2 separate regions of the Homo sapiens genome follow, and region 1 is linked to region 2. The links come from fine-mapping of genetic effects on gene expression. A gene starts in region 2. The other region holds a variant in brackets. All regions are shown on one strand. Distances are from middle to middle.

Region 1 (5,370 bases), 31 kb before region 2:
TATAAAACGGGAATAACAGCAGTCTCTATCTTACTGAGTTGTGAAGATTAAGGAAGCACTTAAATAAGGGATTAAGGGGCTTAGGGTAGTGCCTGGCATAAGGCAAGTGACGTTATCTTTGTGGGCTATTTTCCAACTCACTCCTATCCCCATTCCTAAACATGCTATGTTCTTCCTGACCTCCATGCCATTTGTATGTGCACAGGGAAAATCCACTTAAGACTTTTCTGGTGATTTCTCCAGAAATCCTTTCCAATTTGTCCATTCTGGTGCAGATGCCTCGTTATGTCCCCAAAGCAACTTGTGCTTCCATTTATTATATAGCACCTATACACTATACCATTTTCCTTTCTCCTTCACTAGATTGAGTCCTCTTATGAAATGGGTAATTTCATTCATTTAGCATCCCCAGTACCTAACCTGACAAATACCAAGTATCAAAGTGTTCAACTGAGTGATGCTGTTTTTTTCCCTTTCCCAACAGTTGTTAGCCCTGAAGATCTGGCTACCCCAATAGGAAGGCTGAAGGTTTCCCTTCAAGCAGCTGCTGTCCTCCATGCTATTTACAAGGAGATGACTGAAGATTTGTTTTCATGAAGGAACAAGTGCTATTCCAATCTAAAAGTCTCTGAGGGAACCATAGTAAAAAGTCTCTTATAAAGTTAGCTTGCTATAACATGAATTTGGTTTACTGTGATGTCTAGTGTCTCTCAATCTAATGATGAAAGTTTAGAATGATGAAAGTTTCATTTGTAAAACTAGCTAGCTAAAGGCATTTTTCTCCAGTACCTTAGCACTTTACCAGGCAGGAAGCAGGCTTGCTTTCAAGAACTGAAAATGAACGGTCACAGGTGAATTTACAAAAACAAACAACAAAAAAAACCCAGTTTATTCATCTTTTAGTTCTTCCAAAATTGAAAATATCAAGTCCTACTGCTAAGGAGAAAAAACAAACAAACATAAAATCCGGGACCCCTCCCCCCTTCTTCTCTTAAAGTCACAGAGCACGGAAGGAACTGCAGTGGGACAGGTGGGTGCAGAGAACCAGAAGGGGAGGATGGCAAGATAAACTCCCCAAATACTTGAAAAGCTGTTCAACAGAAACTGTGATAAATACAGGACAATGCAAGACAAAGTTAAAATAAGGAGCAGCAGTGCCGAGAGGCTGTGTTGTAGATATGGCCTCCCTTCCTCTTCTCTTTTCTCATCAGGGTATTCTAGGCCCAAGGCATGACTTGTCCCTTCCAGATATAAATGTTGACTCCTTTGAGCCTTCCTCTACATTTCACTAGAAGCGGTACATGAGGCACAACCTGATATATCTTCCTTAGATATATGAGAAAAAAAAGAAGACAGTGGCAATTTTGCCTTCTATCATTGTACCATGTGTGCATTGTATGGAGAAAATAACCGAGCCAGGGAGTATCACTGCTTCTTATGTCTTCCAAGGCAGCAGATATACCTCAGAATCTGCACGAGGCAGGAAAGCAGGAAAACTCAGACGAAGGCACCAGCCCAATCTGCCTCACTGGCTCAAGCTGTATGGTTTATCACAACCATTAGCAAATTTCCGAGAACCTTGAGTATTGCAAAGATAAAACTTAGAGATGTGCGGAAGGTCATGGCAGTAGGGTAGGTTGGAGGATTGAATGTGCTGGTCAAGAACCATGATACGGGTAATTAAGGGTCACCTTGTACCACTGTCTTGGAAATACAGCTTTGAGACACCAAATAAGATGTCAGAAGCCATCAATGTCTTGGCAGAAGGTGACAGGAAGAGAGAAGAATGAAACAATATTTATTAACAGCGGGAGCCTCCTCCTGTCTTCAAGAACACCTCCTCCCTTGCCATCTGAATGGGGCCATTGGCACGTGTCCTGGTGGGCCTGG[A/C]ATTCCCCGAGTAGATTGGTCCACACAAATGGCCCCCTAAACCCATAAACACAAATGGCAAAACTTCAAATGAAAACGAAAGGAAAAATACAGTTTCTATGTCATGTAAAATTTTCAGGGGTTGGCTGGAGGAAGAATGGAGCTCAGGGCCAAAGTTCAGAAGTTACTTCCTCTTTTTCTTGGGGGGTGCAGAGCTGTGTCTGGAACCACGGTTAGAGCCACGGCCCGAACTGTGCACAGATGCCTTCCTCTTCCGGCTCATACTTCGACTTTGTTCTTCTTCTTCCTCGTAACGACTTTCTCGGTCCGCTAAATAGAAGAGGCATTATTAGTTAGCAATAGGTAAGCTTTAGGTACCTAATATTACTGGATAGCATGAGATAGTACAGAGAATACACTTTGGAATCAGACCCAAGTTTTAATATTGGGCAAGTACTTTCTGAACCTTGGTTTATTTACAAAAGGGAGAATTATTTAAGGGTTAAATAAGGTAACCTATGAAAACTACCTATTCCCAATGCTTGGAACACAGCAGTTAATATTTATTTCCTTTTAAGCTTTAAAACGTTTGTTTGGGGTTTGGCTTCAGAGTAACTAGATTAGCATTATAAAGACATGCCTAACCTGGAAGAAGCCTAGAAAATTAAAGTATTATAGGATTTAGGTTTGGAAACTGAGTAGGCTAATTCTTGAGTATTACATGAATATGTGGCTATCATGGCTATAGGAAAGATGGGGGCTTGCGCAGATGAAAACAGCATCCAGTTTGGCAGAGCACTGCCCACTGGAGAGTATGGACACATTCCACACCTCATTTTCTCCTTCAGTCAATGAAGTTGTATCTGTGGCTCCAAAGCACTTTTATAGTGTTCTTTTGTTACTTTCATTACGCCATCAATACTAACACCTCAAAATATTGAAATGTGTTAGAAATTTGTGCGTAGACAAATGAATAAAAAACAACACATTTTTAAAAACCTTTTCGGGCTTCTTCCTCCAGTTCATCCCAATCCTTTCCACTCTCTTCTTCACTACCCAATGACTCCTTAGAATAGTCTGGAAGAAAATTAATTAAGCGTTAGTCATCATGCGGGAACAGAATGGAACGACAGAGTTCTTAGTCTAAAAAAAGTAGTTTTCAGAAATGACATTAGATTAGGAAGCCAGGACGAACTTTGCTCTGTAAGACTAACCTGACTCTTCTGCTTCTGATGAATAATCTTCATCACTGTCCTCCTCTTCCTCTTCATAGTCATCTTCTGAAGGATTAAAAGTCTCATCTTCAATTTCAGACTCTGAATCCCCTTCTTCAGCATCACTCCCCTGGTGAGTTAGAGCATAATACTGATTTTTTTTTGACATTTACCTTATTAACTTAATGAATTAATTCAGCCCACATAGTATACCAGTATTTACATGAAGAAAACAAGAGCAAAATAATCTGAGGGATCAAGAGATAAAATGACTTGTTTAAAATTAGTGGTCAGGTGCAATTATTATTTTACTATTATTATGTATTATTACATTTCTGAAAAATTCACGTTAGCCTTCCTCACCCAGGGAAATTAACAACAGAAAGACTTTCTGTATTTACGTATCACACAAACGTTAAGTGGATCATTTTTTAAAAAATAATTTTTGCAAAATGCCCTGAAGGATTTTTCCCTAAATGCTAAGAAACTCATTGAGGAAAAGTTTTTGTAATTTCCAAGAAATCTTGTCAGGAGTTAGTTACCACTGCCCAATCAATTTATCAATTTGAAGAAACAATAATATCAAGTGGTGTTTAGAGCTTCTCCCAGATGGCCTAGTCCCTTATGTACTACTCATATTCCATTCTAACTGACCAAATGATAGCGGGCAACACTGTGTACCAGAAAAGAAACCCCACACTCACGCACCTCACCCTCAGGCTCCAGGAAAGACCAGCCACCTTGTTCGAAGAAGCCCTCAGGGTCATCAACAATGGTCTTCATGATTTTAGTCCAGTTGAGGGACTGTACTCCTTCTGTGTATTTCAGGTCGCAGGAACTAAGAGAAATGACATGACAAAGTCAAATCAATCTTCTGTATTTTCCATATATTCTTTCTTCTTTTTTTGAGACAGAGTCTTGCTCTGTTGCCCAGGCTGGAGTGCAGTGGCACAATCTTCGCTCACTGCAACCTCTGCCTCCTAGGTTCAAGTGATTCTCCTGCCTCAGCCTCCCGAGTATCTGGGATTACAGGCGCATGCCACCATGCCTGGCTAATTTTTATATTTTTAGTAGAGACAGGGTTTTGCCATGTTGGTCAGGCTGGTCTAGAACTCCTGACTTCAGGTGAATAACCTGCCTCAGCCTCCCAAAGTGCTGGGATTACAGGTGTGAGCCACCGCGCCCTGCCTGGGAGCAGATATTCTTTGCACTATGCCACCAGATCATGTCCCAATGGCTGCTATTTGATCTCCTAGAGCACTAGCCCTCACAACAGACCAACATTCCAACTGAAACAAGCTTTCTCCTTCACCTGAGTCTGAGCTCATCCTCTCCCATTTTCTTCCTTAAACACCAATTTCCCTCTTCTTCACTTAGTCTTCTCTCCTATTCACCCATGCTTTTCCCTCTCTGTCACTGATTCCATTCTTATTTCTAAGTAGTCTTAACTCATAACCACTTCTGCGATTCTGTTTTTCACTATTGTAGTTAAGAAATAGGGACAATTTTCAGCCGGGTGCGGTGGCTCACGCCTGTAATCCCAGCACTTTGGGAGGCCAAGGCAGGCGGATCACGAGGTCAGGAGATCGAGACCATCTTGGCTAACACGGTGAAACCCCGTCCTACTAAAAATACAAAAAATTAGCCAGGCATGGTAGCACGCGCCTGTAGTCCCAGCTACTTGGGAGGCTGAAGCAGGAGAATCGCTTGAACCTGGGAGGTGGAGGTTGCAGTGAGCCGAGATCGTGCCACTGCACTCCAGCCTGGGCAACAGAGTGAGACTCTGTCTCAAAAAAATATATAATAATAATAAAAAAAAAAAAAAAAAAAAAAAGAAAGAAACAGGGACAATTTTCAATGGCCCTAGCCTTTCTTCTTCAACCTTTCACTGCTTTCCTATGTGTTGTTTATTTGATGCAAAATCTGTATGAAGGTAGGAACAAATTTTTTTTCCCAGTACCTAAAGTGCCCTGTATTTAGACAATGCTCAAATGACTTTCTCTTTCTCACTTCTGTTGAGGAGGGCTGAATCAGTTAAGAGTGGGTAAGAAGAAAAAAATCAAAGAAATGACAATAGTAAGGATAAAAACAAACAACCATAAAATCTGCCTGAGAACCACTGGCATAAATCCACTTTAGACAATATACACGGCAACTTCTGCTTCCAGCCATGATGGAGTAACAATGACTAGATTTACTTTCCCACCTTAAACAACTACAAAACAAAATATGAAACAACAGTTTTCAGACATTGGATAAAAAGCAGCACAAGACCATAATCCCTGAA
Region 2 (5,376 bases):
ATCTTGCCCAGGCTGGTCTTTAACTCCTGGCCTCATGTGCTGGGTACAGGCATGAGTCACGGTGCCCAGCCAGGTTTGGAATTTTTACCATTAACTTCAACTTATTCTATTTCAATCCCAGTTTTCTTATTAAAAAAAGGAAAAGGTGTAAAAGAGAAAAGTTATACAACACACCTATATATCCCACTATCTTTCTGCTATATCCAGGAGGATAAGCGACTAGATTTAACCCAGAAAACTACTATCTCTGATTAAGTGTATCAGAATGAAAGCACTGTAGGGTGAAAAGACTGCATACACAAAGAACTTCTACAGGTGGGTTCTGGACACATTAACACAAAAGCAGAAAGTCTTATTCAAGTAAGTTTTTCATAATAGCCACAGGTTTTGTTAACTGGTACATTTTTACATAGATTTGGCTCATAACTTTACACCATCAGTGTCTTATCAATATCTAACATTCTCCCAAGATGATGTCATTAAGGTAGTAAGAGGGCCAAGATAAACTTTAAAGATTTTTGAGATACAAAAAAAAATGGTGGGTGGGAAATAACTTTCATGGATTTAAAGACTATCAGTTTTATTAGGTTTGCCAACCTGTCTTCAGGCCACAGTTAATTTGTCATGTAGAGGAAGTGAGAGCTATAGATTAGTTTTCATGAATGGTATAGAGAGAATGAAATTATTTGATGAATCTGAATCACTGGGACTAGAAACAATTTTCATACCAAAGGTTCACAGTTTCAGGGTTTATGGGTACAAGAGAGGGCTTCGGATTTTTAGTACTTACTGATCATTAGAAAGTATCAAGGTTTTAAAATGTTTTTCTAACATCGATTATGTTTGAATAATATGACACTGAGAGAAGCTGCAAAAAATCATTTGGTAGAAATTAATCAAAAAATTAAAAAAAATAAAATGTTCAGTATTCATCTAGCATTTAGTTCTTATTTTTCCTTTTCATAAAATGCAAGAGAATCAATTTTATTTTCAATTATCTAATGTATTTAGCCCCAAAAGATGAAACATGCACAGACAGCTTTAATATGAATGGCAAGGAAACGACCAATTTTAATGGCTTGGTTTTAGTAGATGACCAGTTTGAAAGATAATTTACAATGCTGAAATGAGAGCTGATCATTTTTCTCAAAACGTTTTTCAGGTTAAAAAAAAATCTTTATTAGCTGTATCTTCCCTTGATGACAGGGTTCAGGGGCAAGACTTAAGCTAGCCAACTCAGACTGCATCACAGAATGCAACCAAATGTTTGCTCAATTAGTAAGTTAACATCATAAAAATAAGTTTTAACTGTGGACGTTTTTAGAGCAGCAAAACTGCCGAATCTTTAAAAAACTGGGAACTGCCACAGCTCTTTTAATGAACACGTGCCCCGGATACGCTACCAAGGAACTAATAAGGTTTTAGGCATCGTTTTGTTTTGTTTTGTTATTACTAATGCCTGCAGGCTTTCAGCGTTAGGTCCCTCTCTGTAACCCACAGCAGGGCCTAGAACATGAGGCGGTTGCGCGTGAGCAGTATTTCTTTTTTTAACTCCAGCAAAAGCCCCGCAAACGATAAACGCTAAAAGCCCGATTGACATCCTCCTTGCCCTTCCATCTCTCCTTTACGAAGACGGTTATAATCCTGGCGGGACCAGGGGTGGAATATTGTGGTTCTGGAGGGACAGAGCGAGTGCGTGAGAACACGGCAGGGGAGGGCAGCAAGACGTGACCACGGAGTAGGAGGGAAGGATGTTGCCTCTTCTAGGGCGGGAAGAGACTGCGAGAGGTGCTGCTATGCATGACCAAGGCTGGCACGCGGGGAAGATGGTGATGGCCGCAGGACAGGGTGAATGCGGGGGATTCCCTGTTAAGGGGCAGCGTTCGTGGCCGCCTCCGGTGAATGATTCGGGAGCAACGAAAAGGGTGAGGCACAGAACCCGGGAATTCCTGACCGAAAGAGAAAAAAGGGCGCCGAGAAACAGGGTTATTATGGGATGGCTAAGGGGGCTCCCTAGGAAAAATTACAGGATCTTCCTCACCCGCCAATTGCTGTACAGTCTCTTCACTCGCCGATAATAAGCGTCTTTGTCCAGAGTCACAGCCATAGCCCCGGACGCCGCTTCTCCTCGGGTTCCGAGAATCACGCGAGGTCCCGGCTCAGCCACCCGCTCTCGGCCCAGGAATCCCGCACTCTCCCAATGACCCGGAAGTATCGACCTCAAAGATGCCCTTTCCGCTTCCGGGTCCCAACAGCGTTAGGTTTTTTTTTTGTTTGTTTGTTTGTTTTGTTTTTTTCCAACCCTCTTTCGGATGGACGGGGGAAAGAGAGAAAGAAAAACGAGGGAAAATCAACAAAATGTGCGATGCAAAGAGTCGATTTTCGCGGGGTTTGTCAACTTCGCCACTGCCGCACGCGAATCGACGTCGTCACGTGACGGTCTGCCTCCGCCCTTATTAACTCTCAGCCCAGCGGCGGTTTCCAGGACCTCAGACTTTTTGCCGAGGCGGCAGTCCCTAGACGAAGCGAAGGAGGCGGCGCCTGCCCCGCCCACAAGAGCTGCCGCGCGCGGGTGTTATAGCTCCACCCCATCTGCAAAGGAAGGGGGAGCGGAAAGAGCGGGATCTAGCGTGGGATAAAAGTGGGACTACTACAGTGTAACTGGGCATGCGCCCCTCCTAGAAATGATGGGAATGCAAAAGCCCTTGACTGCTCCAGGACTCGAGGGATCCTCGGTGCCAGGATGCTGGGTCAAGCGCTCCGCCGGGACAGAGGACTCATACCAGGGAAATGGAGCCCAGCCTCGTGATAAACTACGACCCAAGCTGGGGGAGGAACCTAGTTTTCGAAAGGAAAATAATATGCGCAAGCTTTAACTGAGCAGTGGGATGGTGTAAGTCAGAGGAAACAGATGACTTGAGGGGCTCTACAAACTTTTAGTTCCTTCCCACAACCCCACCCCCTGAGCCCAAGTCGCGGCAGCATCCTTCCAGTCGGCCAGTCCCCTTGCTGCAGTTCATGAAAACTGGCACTATTCTATGGCTTCCCCCAAATAACCGTTACTTCAGTTAATTAGAAACAAAACATAAATGGTTCCTGATGACATTCTTGCTCCCTGTCTCTTCTAAAAACTTGGAGTTTGAATCCAGAAGTTTGCCTACCTACCATTTACCTTAAATAATTCCCTTGCCTTTAGCCAGCTGGACAGTCTACATTTGTATATACCCTTTAGAGGAGTACAGATGACTTGTCTGCTGTAAGGCAATTTAGTATAAACAGTATTGAACTTAAGGAAAGTGGTGCTGAAATTACCCACCATTAACAACTCAAAATCAATACACTGGGTTTGAGCAAACATAGAACAAAGGAAGAGTGGAAAAGGATTAACTTAAATTTATTAATGCCAAGGGGAAAGAAGGTAACAGTTCCTGACCCTCCAGCTGTATCCACAGTTCGGCCAGGAACAGGCTCTGCCAGAGGCTAGGGCCAGCGCTACATAGTCTGTGGTTAATGGAGGTGACTAGGGAGGGGTGAGCACACCAGCTGCTCTAGTCTCCTTTCCTTCCCCAGAAATGAGGAAGTGGTCATGTATTATTTTAGGAGTTCCCCTGCCCACCCAATCCTCTCATAATTGGGAGCAATCAGGTACATTTTTTTTTTTTTTTCCTTTTCACCTCCTGGAGTCCTGGACTTCCCCACATCTCCCCTGCCCCTCCCACGTTTCCATAGTCCAAGGGCCAGAGTAAATGAAAATACAGCAGCCGCCCAAGCAATGGGGCCCATGCTGGGGCTTCAGTCATCAGCATCTTCACTGGAGTCTGAGTTAGCTGGCATCATAGGATCATCAATGAGTGAGAAGTCCCTTTCTGAGCTATCATAGCCCTGAGATAAGTCATCATCATCTTCTTCATCCTCATCGTCATCCTCCTCAGGTTGCAGTGGTGGCAACCGCAAGGTAGTACCAGAGGCGGTAGTCACTGGTGAAGAGGGGTAGCCAGGGGCTCTCAAGCCTGGATGGTGATGGTGGTGATGGTGGGGGTGGGGGTGGTGGTGGTGGTGATGAAGCATGGTGCTGGAGTCTACATGAGGGGATGATGGTGCACCACCCATCACAAATGGCATAAAAGGCAAAGATGCAGAAGTGGCACTGCTGTGACCCAAAGATGACACAGACTGTAGGCCACTACTGCTGTGTTGGAACGTGTTATGCAGAGATAGAGACCCAGTGCTTCCACCCTGCATGAGGGCCATCATCTTAGAAAGGTCTGGTCGCATCCTACGGGCCCGCTTCTTGCTGCTCTCTGGTGCAATAGGCCCTGGCAAAACCCGGTTGAACACCGTTTCAGTGTGATGACCCTAGGAGGAGGGAATAGAAGATAATAAAAAGAAAGAAAGGGGAAAAAAGAAAAGAAACCAAAGCCAACAGAGTCCTAGCTTACAATGCTTTTTTACTGAATGTACCTTAGAAGAGGCAAAACAAGCACAGCGATACTAGGCTTGATTGGTGGTAATGGGAAGGAGGAAATGCTGGACTTAGCTGGTTGAAACATTCTGATACTAAAGTTAAGATCAATGATTTTGTACCGAAACTCATATTAACCAGTTTTTGCTTCTTTTCCCCATGACTATATTGTATCTTTACTTTAGTCAACCATTTCACAAATGCTTACCTTTGTTAAGAAGGGGTCTGGGTAAGACAATGAATTAGTAAATGCACATAAAAAAAATCACTTGTGACCGGGCGCGGTGGCTCACGCCTGTAATCCCAGCACTTTGGGAGGCCGAGGCGGGGGAATCACAAGGTCAGGAGATCGAGACCATCCTGGCTAACACGGTGAAACCCGGTCTCTACTAAAAATGCAAAAAATTAGCTGGGCAAGGTGGCGGGCGCCTGTAGTCCCACAGCTACTCGGGAGGCTGAGGCAGGAGAATGGTGTGAACCCGGGAGGCAGAGCTTGCAGTGAGCCGAGATCGCGCCACTGCACTCCAGCCTGAGCGACAGCGAGACTCCGTCTCAAAAAAAAAAAAAAAATCACTCGTGTCTCCTGATGGCAAGTTGTTCACTTGTTCTTACTATGTGAATTGACATTTACAATAATATCCTCTATTAGCACATCAAAGCAGGGTAAATTCAAGACAGATCAGATAAAGATTTCTACATGTCTAGAACACCAAAAAACTGTCAGAAACTCCTCACTAAATTTAATAAAATAATTTTTGTTCCACATTGATAAAAAACTTACATATCTGAATTTTAAATGGCTTCTTCTAGATGTTCTGACTAAAAATTCTGATTAAGTTCATTGAAGATAGAAGTTATTCCTGCAGGTCCCAAGAATAACGTAGTGCTAGATTCACTGTCAATTCTATATTAAG

Alleles and levels. Positions count from the first base shown, and alleles are read on the strand shown. Sizes are in standard deviations (SD) of each study's normalised expression.
In carriers of allele C in region 1, the expression in skeletal muscle of the gene that starts at base 2,199 in region 2 tends to be higher than with A alone (small effect, 0.31 SD a copy in GTEx).

The links. PIP is the estimated chance that this variant, and not a neighbour inherited with it, causes the effect. A credible set is the group of variants that fine-mapping cannot tell apart.
Region 1: its variant is the best candidate, but not a certain one, in a credible set for the expression of SUPT16H in skeletal muscle (GTEx, PIP 0.72).

What each region holds. Positions count from the first base shown.
Region 1 is chr14:21,350,620-21,355,989 of GRCh38, forward strand. It overlaps RPGRIP1 (RPGR interacting protein 1), which reads left to right. Exons shown (of 25, transcript NM_020366.4): 25 at 485-682. The coding sequence ends at 597. It overlaps SUPT16H (SPT16 homolog, facilitates chromatin remodeling subunit), which reads right to left. Exons shown (of 26, transcript NM_007192.4): 23 at 3,792-3,921; 24 at 3,084-3,213; 25 at 2,869-2,946; 26 at 857-2,199. The coding sequence ends at 2,054. Among named protein-coding and RNA genes, the nearest start is that of SUPT16H, 31 kb to the right of the region's middle. RefSeq lists an enhancer at 1,365-2,564. The variant A/C (reference allele first, on the strand shown) is at 1,891.
Region 2 is chr14:21,381,821-21,387,196 of GRCh38, forward strand. SUPT16H (SPT16 homolog, facilitates chromatin remodeling subunit) reads right to left here and starts at 2,199. Exons shown (of 26, transcript NM_007192.4): 1 at 2,042-2,199. The coding sequence starts at 2,107. It overlaps CHD8 (chromodomain helicase DNA binding protein 8), which reads right to left. Exons shown (of 38, transcript NM_001170629.2): 38 at 3,379-4,356. The coding sequence ends at 3,793. LOC107984643 (a long non-coding RNA gene) reads left to right here and starts at 2,453. Exons shown (of 2, transcript XR_001750627.2): 1 at 2,453-2,893.